3 separate regions of the Homo sapiens genome follow, and all the other regions are linked to region 1. The links come from fine-mapping of genetic effects on gene expression. Tissue or cell type: whole blood. Region 1 holds a variant in brackets; each other region holds the start of a gene. All regions are shown on one strand. Distances are between the middles of the regions. Region 1 overlaps UAP1L1 (UDP-N-acetylglucosamine pyrophosphorylase 1 like 1). Region 2 holds the start of FUT7 (fucosyltransferase 7). Region 3 holds the start of LINC02908 (long intergenic non-protein coding RNA 2908).

What was found.
Region 2: FUT7 starts here. The variant in region 1 is fine-mapped to the expression of FUT7 in whole blood (TOPMed, PIP above 0.99).
Region 3: LINC02908 starts here. The variant in region 1 is fine-mapped to the expression of LINC02908 in whole blood (TOPMed, PIP above 0.99).

The regions. Positions count from the first base shown.
Region 1 is chr9:137,081,069-137,083,735 of GRCh38, reverse strand. It overlaps UAP1L1 (UDP-N-acetylglucosamine pyrophosphorylase 1 like 1), which reads right to left. Exons shown (of 9, transcript NM_207309.3): 8 at 1,672-1,738; 9 at 1-1,099. The coding sequence ends at 1,007. Among named protein-coding and RNA genes, the nearest start is that of MAN1B1-DT, 4.4 kb to the left of the region's middle. RefSeq lists a silencer at 1-217 and an enhancer at 1-324. The variant A/C (reference allele first, on the strand shown) is at 1,301.
Region 2 is chr9:137,030,429-137,033,218 of GRCh38, reverse strand. FUT7 (fucosyltransferase 7) reads left to right here and starts at 1,131. Exons shown (of 2, transcript NM_004479.4): 1 at 1,131-1,240; 2 at 1,494-2,790. The coding sequence starts at 1,228. The coding sequence ends at 2,509. It overlaps LINC02908 (long intergenic non-protein coding RNA 2908), which reads right to left. Exons shown (of 3, transcript NR_171031.1): 2 at 1-1,221. RefSeq lists an enhancer at 987-1,096.
Region 3 is chr9:137,025,850-137,028,639 of GRCh38, reverse strand. It overlaps LINC02908 (long intergenic non-protein coding RNA 2908), which reads right to left and starts at 1,176. Exons shown (of 3, transcript NR_171031.1): 1 at 729-1,176. ABCA2 (ATP binding cassette subfamily A member 2) reads left to right here and starts at 403. Exons shown (of 49, transcript NM_001606.5): 1 at 403-565. The coding sequence starts at 500. RefSeq lists an enhancer at 1-262 and a silencer at 146-325.

The DNA of each region.
Region 1 (2,667 bases):
GAGAATCACCAGGGGAAGAACCCTGGGGCAGCTGGCTTGTCCCAGCCATGCCTGAGTGCACCAAATATGGAGGCTGCGTCCTCACTCGGAGAGCCAGGCAGCCTGAGCACCAAGATCCGTCAGAAGCAGCAGGCAGCTGGGGTGAGGGGTGGTGCCTCTGACTCATGAAATCCCGGATTAGTCAGCAACCATCACAGAGGCCGCCGGCATTGATCCCACTGGTTCTTGGGGAAGCACAGAAAACTCAGCAGCCTAAACCGACCATGGAAGAGGCTGAGAGGCAGAGGCCTTGGGGATAGATGGGGAGAAGGCAGGAGTACCGGCCGCAGGCTCAGGTGTCCAGGCCAAGCTTCTCAGAGCCACCTGGATCATGGACATCAGGCTCTTTCTGTGGCCTTGCTGGGCATCCAGGGTGTGTGGGCTGGGATGCCCCAGCCTTGCCCCCATTACTGGTTCGTCTGCTAAGGAAGAGGGGGCAGCCCTCGAGTGGGTGGAATTGTCCCCCTCATTCTGGTTCTGCATCTGTAGGCTGCAGAAGCACATCCTGTGTAGCTTATGCAGCTTCTAGTGCTCGGTGGGGTGTGGTGGATCCACAAGGCGGGCTCCCAAAGGGACATGCCCTCCTGTTCTCCCCAGATGACACCACACCTCCCTTGGGCCCCAACCCGAAGCCTCCTCTCAGCCCCATTCTCCCAGGTCCCAAGTCCCTCTGCCTCTTGACTAGACCCCACAGCCAGGAATGGAGCCACAGAGCCCCCAGCAGGCTGTCGCCACTTGTGTCCAGAGGCGACAGGAGAGGCCCTGCCCTCGTGGAGTCTACCAGCATGTTTCATTCTGTGTTCTGCAGGCTGGAAGCATGGGGCAGGCTGCTTTCCCACCCAGAGCTCAGGCTGGGCTGTAGCCCCCAGCTCCAGGACGCCGGGGCTGGCAGGTCTGGGGGGAGTCGGGACTTCCAGGATGCCGGGGCTGGCAGGTCTCGGGGGAGTCTGGGGACAGTCTGGGCGGGTCAGGACTCCTGCAGCTGCGGCTCCCTGGCCTGGTCTTCATCCAGGATGAGCGGGGACTGGAACTCCCGGCCTTGCAGGTACACTTCTAAACCCTGGAGACGAGCAGGGGACAATGGCCAAGTACCCACCTTTTGGCGGGTCACAGCCCCTCTGGCCACACCAAGAGCCACAGTCCCCAGGTGCGATCCCAGGTCTGCCTGGAGTCAGGGAGGGGTGGGGACAGAAAGGCTTCCAGGGCCAGGAGCAGACACACACTGCAAGGCCACCCAAGACCACACTCAAGACCCTAGGCC[A/C]GCAGGGGACCCTCCTGTCACGCACAGGTCTGACCTGACCAGAGAAAGGGGCAAGGGCAGCCGAGGTCAGGGAGGTAGCAGAGGCCGGTGTCCTCCCTCCGCAAGGCCCCCACCAAGGCCTGACTGGCCCCACACTGGGCTCAGACCTGGGCTGTCTCATCCCCATGCCCTCCCAGGACCTGCAAAGGCCTCTGGATGCCTCACCCCACCCCAACCCATATCTTGGAAAGTCTTCTGCAAATTTAAACCACCGACCCCATTGGTTAACCGAGGTAGAGCTGTGCCGTCTCCACCCGAGCAGCCACCTCTCCCCAGATGGTATTCCAAACCTGACACCAGAAAAGCCCCAGATAGGGATGGGCAGCTCTCACCTCTCCAGAGTAAGACACCAAGGGCGATATCTCACAGATGGCCGGAGGGTCTCCATTTGGGGGCAAGCTAGGGAAAGTCCACTTGTCAATATCTCCTTGCAGCACCTGCCCAGAGCCCTCCCCCAGCACCCCCAGTCCCGATAGGAGACTGAGCTCTACACACCTGGCTCCCCACAGCTCCTGTCTCAGCAAGCTCATCTTCCTCTGGACACCCCAAACCCTGAGCACACATCCCACTGCCAAGTGACAGGACCTGATTTGGGGTAGAAAGCACCCCCACAGGCCTCCCACGCAGAGCCTAGGCAGCTAGATTTAGGGGTGGCCCTAGAAAATCAGGGAGATGGAAGCCAAACGTCCTTTTCTTTCCCAGCCCTGAAATCAAACTGTCCTGCTACTTTCTAAATTCATGCCCGGGGCTCAGTTTCAAAGCCTGTGAATAAATGGGAACAACGTTGGTTGGGTGATGGATCCCCTAAAAGCCCTGACCTGACTGACCAAAGTTGCACACACACCCCACAAATGTATACAAATAAGAAAAATAAAAATAAAAAAATAGCCGGGTGAGGTGGCTCACGCCTGTAATCCCAGCACTTTGCGAGGCCGAGGCGGGCAGATCACAGGTCAGGAGTTTGAGACCATCCTGGCTAACACGGTGAAACCCTGTCTCTACTAAAAAAAAAAAAAAATACAAAAAAATGAGCCGGGCGTGGTGGCGGGCGCCTGTAGTCCCAGCTACTCAGGAGGCTGAGGCAGGAGAATGGCGGAAACCGGGGGAGGGTGGAGCTTGCAGCGAGCCGAGATCCCACCACTGCACTACAGCCTGGGCGACAGAGCGAGACTCCATCTCAAAAAAGTAAATAAAAATAAAAATAAATAAATAAAAGCCAAATCTAAGTATGCCTTTGTAAACAAACCAAAACCTTGTGGATAAGTTGGGGAGGGAGTTGGGGAGCCCCTGCCTCCCTCAGTGCACTGAGCACAACTTGAAGGGTCGGG
Region 2 (2,790 bases), 51 kb after region 1:
TCCAGGACGTCTGGGTCTGGCCACGCCTGGGACCACACAAGGTCCCGTGCAGCAGAGTGGCAACGTGGTTGGGTGAAGAGGCTGATGGGGCCTCCCACTGTGGCTGAGAGTGGGGTGTTGGTTGGCTGGGGCTCAGGGTGACCCCGCAGGGCCATCCCAGCCTGGCTGGCACCCAACGTGGGCTGGTGTAGAAGAAGGAACCTGGCCTCCAGGCTCCAGGCCCTGGCTTAGAGGGAGCGGGGAGTCTGGACTTCAGGCTGGATCCCTTCCTCTTCCTGGAGCGGGTGCTGGCCCCCAACCCGCTTGCGTCAGGGACAAAAGGACTCCTTCCCTTTCCAGCCTGGAAAGCCCCTCTGCTGCAGGCTGGAGGAAGGGACCCTGGGCCCAGCCTATAGTCAGCGGTGTCTATGGGCATGGATCTGGACGGGGAAAAGGACAAAGCAGCCTCCATCCACAGTTCATTCCGGGACCAGGCCCTTGCAGGCACGCGCTGGGCTCCTGTGGGAAGACACTAAGGGCCCCAGGACAGACCTCCTCTCCGGGCATCTGGGTTCCTAGATGGCAGAGGTGGCAGAGTGGGGTGGGATGGCCCAATTGGGAGCTTTAGCTTCCGGCAAAGAGCTGAGCACAGTACATCTTCAATGTGTAAGATTCTCCTGGGAGACCAGGGCCCAGCTGGTGGTGAGCTGGGGGAAGTGGGTGATACTGCCGTGGGAGGAGCCACCTGGCCCTCTGGGGAAGTGCACTCGCTGTCTGCAGCGCCCAGGCCTGGGTAGCTGGGTGGGGGCTGGGGGGCCATCTGTGCTCAGGGTGCCTGCACCTGGGCCTTCTCTGCCCTGGGCCAAGCCTGCCCGAGCCTCTCTGTCCTCTGCCTGCCCAGCTGGACATCTCTGGGCCTCTCTGGAGACCAGTGGGGTGGGCTGTGGGGGCGTCATATTGCCCTGGCTTGGCATCCCTCTTGTGGCTGTACCCCTCCCAGCAGCCCCAGGACTAGCAAGTCCCCGAGATGGGGGTGGGGACAGTGGTTGATGCCAAAGGTTGTGGGGGCAGGGGCGGGGCAGGAGCAGGAAGGTCCCCTGAGTTCCCTCACCTTGGGCAGAGATAAAAGGAGCACAGTTCCAGGCGGGGCTGAGCTAGGGCGTAGCTGTGATTTCAGGGGCACCTCTGGCGGCTGCCGTGATTTGAGAATCTCGGGTCTCTTGGCTGACTGATCCTGGGAGACTGTGGATGAATAATGCTGGTGAGTGTCTGGCCCTCGGGGAGGCCCAAGCTGGGGACAGCTAGGCAACCTGGGAGGGGAGGACGGGGGTGGCGCTGAGTGGGGCATGTCGGTGTCCCTGAGCCCATGGGAGGGGAGGACGGGGGTGGCGCTGAGTGGGGCATGTGGGTGTCCCTGAGCCCATGGGAGGGGAGGACGGGGTTGGCGCTGAGTGGGGCGTGTGGATGTCCCTGAGCCCAAGTGACAGAGCCTCCCCTCCCTCGTGCTGCTGCAGGGCACGGCCCCACCCGGAGGCTGCGAGGCTTGGGGGTCCTGGCCGGGGTGGCTCTGCTCGCTGCCCTCTGGCTCCTGTGGCTGCTGGGGTCAGCCCCTCGGGGTACCCCGGCACCCCAGCCCACGATCACCATCCTTGTCTGGCACTGGCCCTTCACTGACCAGCCCCCAGAGCTGCCCAGCGACACCTGCACCCGCTACGGCATCGCCCGCTGCCACCTGAGTGCCAACCGAAGCCTGCTGGCCAGCGCCGACGCCGTGGTCTTCCACCACCGCGAGCTGCAGACCCGGCGGTCCCACCTGCCCCTGGCCCAGCGGCCGCGAGGGCAGCCCTGGGTGTGGGCCTCCATGGAGTCTCCTAGCCACACCCACGGCCTCAGCCACCTCCGAGGCATCTTCAACTGGGTGCTGAGCTACCGGCGCGACTCGGACATCTTTGTGCCCTATGGCCGCCTGGAGCCCCACTGGGGGCCCTCGCCACCGCTGCCAGCCAAGAGCAGGGTGGCCGCCTGGGTGGTCAGCAACTTCCAGGAGCGGCAGCTGCGTGCCAGGCTGTACCGGCAGCTGGCGCCTCATCTGCGGGTGGATGTCTTTGGCCGTGCCAATGGACGGCCACTGTGCGCCAGCTGCCTGGTGCCCACCGTGGCCCAGTACCGCTTCTACCTGTCCTTTGAGAACTCTCAGCACCGCGACTACATTACGGAGAAATTCTGGCGCAACGCACTGGTGGCTGGCACTGTGCCAGTGGTGCTGGGGCCCCCACGGGCCACCTATGAGGCCTTCGTGCCGGCTGACGCCTTCGTGCATGTGGATGACTTTGGCTCAGCCCGAGAGCTGGCGGCTTTCCTCACTGGCATGAATGAGAGCCGATACCAACGCTTCTTTGCCTGGCGTGACAGGCTCCGCGTGCGACTGTTCACCGACTGGCGGGAACGTTTCTGTGCCATCTGTGACCGCTACCCACACCTACCCCGCAGCCAAGTCTATGAGGACCTTGAGGGTTGGTTTCAGGCCTGAGATCCGCTGGCCGGGGGAGGTGGGTGTGGGTGGAAGGGCTGGGTGTCGAAATCAAACCACCAGGCATCCGGCCCTTACCGGCAAGCAGCGGGCTAACGGGAGGCTGGGCACAGAGGTCAGGAAGCAGGGGTGGGGGGTGCAGGTGGGCACTGGAGCATGCAGAGGAGGTGAGAGTGGGAGGGAGGTAACGGGTGCCTGCTGCGGCAGACGGGAGGGGAAAGGCTGCCGAGGACCCTCCCCACCCTGAACAAATCTTGGGTGGGTGAAGGCCTGGCTGGAAG
Region 3 (2,790 bases), 55 kb after region 1:
CAGCGTCCGCTCGGCGCGCCCCGGGGACAGTGAAGGCTTGGGGCGCCTCTGCAGAGTCGCCAGCGCGGTGGGCGCAGCCGGATGCCTCTGGGAGAAGAGCGCAGCGCCCGAGGGTCCCCCGGCCTACGAAGGCTAAGCCGGGGTCTCGGATTCGATGTGGGCGCGTCGCGTGACGCCCGGCGAGGGGCGGCCCGGAGGCTTCCCGGCGGCGGCGCGCGCAGGGTCTCGGGCCCGGGTCGGTCCCGGGCGCGGCGCGGGCGGCGGGCGCCTCCTGGCGGGCGCGGACGGAGCGCGGCGCCTTTAAGCGGGGGCGGGCGGGGCGCGGGCAGAGTCGCTGTCGCCGCGGCCGCCGGGGCGGAGCCAGCGCGGATCGGGTCCCGGACGCCCGAGCGCCCCGCCCCCGCGCGGGCGATGCCCAGCGGCGCGGCGGGCTGCGGGGCCCGGCGGGGCGCGCAGAGGAGCGGGCCGCGGCGCTGAGGCGGCGGAGCGTGGCCCCGCCATGGGCTTCCTGCACCAGCTGCAGCTGCTGCTCTGGAAGAACGTGACGCTCAAACGCCGGAGCCCGGTGAGCCCACCCCACGCGCCCGCCCTCAGCCCGAGGCCGCGCGCACCGCGGCCAGAGGCGCGCTCCCCGCGCGCACGTGCGGACGGCCGGGCGCGCGCAGACCCCGGCGGGCGCTGGGGGCGGCGCGGGCCCGAGCCCCCTCCCCGCCGGGCCCTGCCCTCGCCTGCCGGCGCTGCGGCCTCCGGGGAGGTGGCTCGGTCGTGTCCAGTCCGGTCCCGCGTCCGCTGACATCGCGGTGCTCGGCTGAGTCACGGCACCCGCGCCCTCTGCAGCGCGCTCGCTGGGGCCGCTGTGGGCGGGGGGCAAGCGGCGCTCAGGACTCTGGCTCGAGGGAGGCCCTGGTTCCCAGGACAGAAGGCAGGCCTGGGGGGCTCCATTCAGCTGCGAGGCTCCATGGTCCTTGGGCCCAGCCTCCCTGGGGTCCCGGAGGAGACCCTGTCCCTTCCCTCCGTCCACCCCTCCCCTGCCCTTGGGCCGCGGCCTGCCATAGAGGTTGGTCCCAGGCATCTCTCCGCCTCCCCTCCTGGCACATCCGTGACCCTTGCTCATGCTCTCGCCACTGGGAATGTCCTTGTGCCAGCCTTGGCCAGCCTGAATCTCTGCACCCATTTGTCCTTTGGGGTCAGTTCTCCCCGAGCCTGATCCACTCTGTTGCCTCCTGGTCCCCCCACCTGCTCTGGGGGCTGGGTCTACTGTTTGGAGCTGTGAACCCCGGCTTTCCCAGCACTGCCTGGGCAGCCAGTGGACCTGAGGGTGCAGGACACATGGCTGTCAGGGACAGAAGTCCTTCGTGGAGCGAGGGGCTTGGGGATATGGGTGTCCTGCCATACCCCCAGCTGGCCAGCTTGGCTCCAGCCTGGGAAGGGAAGGGACACCTCCCAGGCCACAGGCCTGGACCAGCTTAGGTTTCTGAAGGCCCTTGGGATTGTCCAGGCCAGGGCTCAGAGCAGGTGGGGGCCTAAGGCAGACATCCTCTTGCCCAGCCAGGGCCCGGGCGGGACCCCTTGGGCTGCACCAGTCCGTGCCTGTTTATCTTTCAACATGCACTGCAGGAAACCCAGGCTGCAGTCAGCTGGGGTGGCCATCATCACCATGGCTGGCAGAATTCCCCTGGGCACCTGGCCTTGGCGGGGAGCCTGGGTTAGGTACATGCCCTGGCCAGGCACCTGGAGCTGGCTGAGTGGGGTCCCATGGATCAGGCCTGCAGCCCCTGGCATTGAGTCACTGGGGACAGCAGAGCAGGGCCAAGGGAACAGGGATGTGGCATGTGGCATGCATTAGTATTAGTCCCCGGGGGTGGTTGTCAGGAAGGTCCCCACTGGGCTTGGGAGCAGAGGCTGGAATGGTGGCCCCTGTTCCAGTGGGGACAATGCTCAGGGAAGGGAGTGTGGCCTATGAGGGCAGCTGGCAAGCAGGTGGGAGGTGTGCACTGTCCTGACCGCAAGAGTGACTCCCAGCTGCTGGTTTGGGCTGCCCCCCAGGACCTTTTTGGGTCCCCACCCTACAGGGCTCCCAGAGGCCCACTGGGCCACAGTGGAGGTCCTTAGCCCATGGCTGGAGCAGGTGGGGAACTGTTTCCCCCAGGGAGGCTGAGTCCTTGCCAGGCTTGTGATGTGGGGCTGGGGCTGGCTGGACACTGGGCACACTCCTGCTGGGTCCCCACTTTCCTGGGAAGGATCTTGGACATCAGAGCTGGACTCTTGGGGCCAAGCTTGGATGACAGAGGTTTGCCCTGTGTGCCATGCGCCCTGCTGGGGCAGGGGTGCACCCTGGGCAGAGCTCCACCCTGGGCAGAGCTCAGGGTCTGGAGGGTGGGTGCCAAGGACCTCTGTGCTGCTAGCAGGCTCCTCCAAGCTCTTTGCCTCAGTTTCCCTGTCTGTGAGTGTGGCCTATCTCCTCTTAGTTAGCTGGACTTGGGTCTACCCTTGGGCTACAGGCTGCTCTTGGTGCAGGGACAGGGTCACTGTCATGAAGTCACTGGGATGGCAGATGGCAGCGCCACCCTCGGGTCTCACCTGTTCTCCCCCCGACACAGTAGGCGGGAGCTACAGGGAGGGGTCATGCCCAGAGAAGGCATCTAGGCCTCCAGGCGATGTGAAGGCACTGGGCTGGTCTCGAGGGACGGAGGTTGGGCCACCTGGAGGCACCTGTGTGGGGCACCCAGGGCGTGCTAGACCTGTGCTGCCGCCTGTAACCAGATGCTGCTGTGGCGCCCGCCGCCTGCC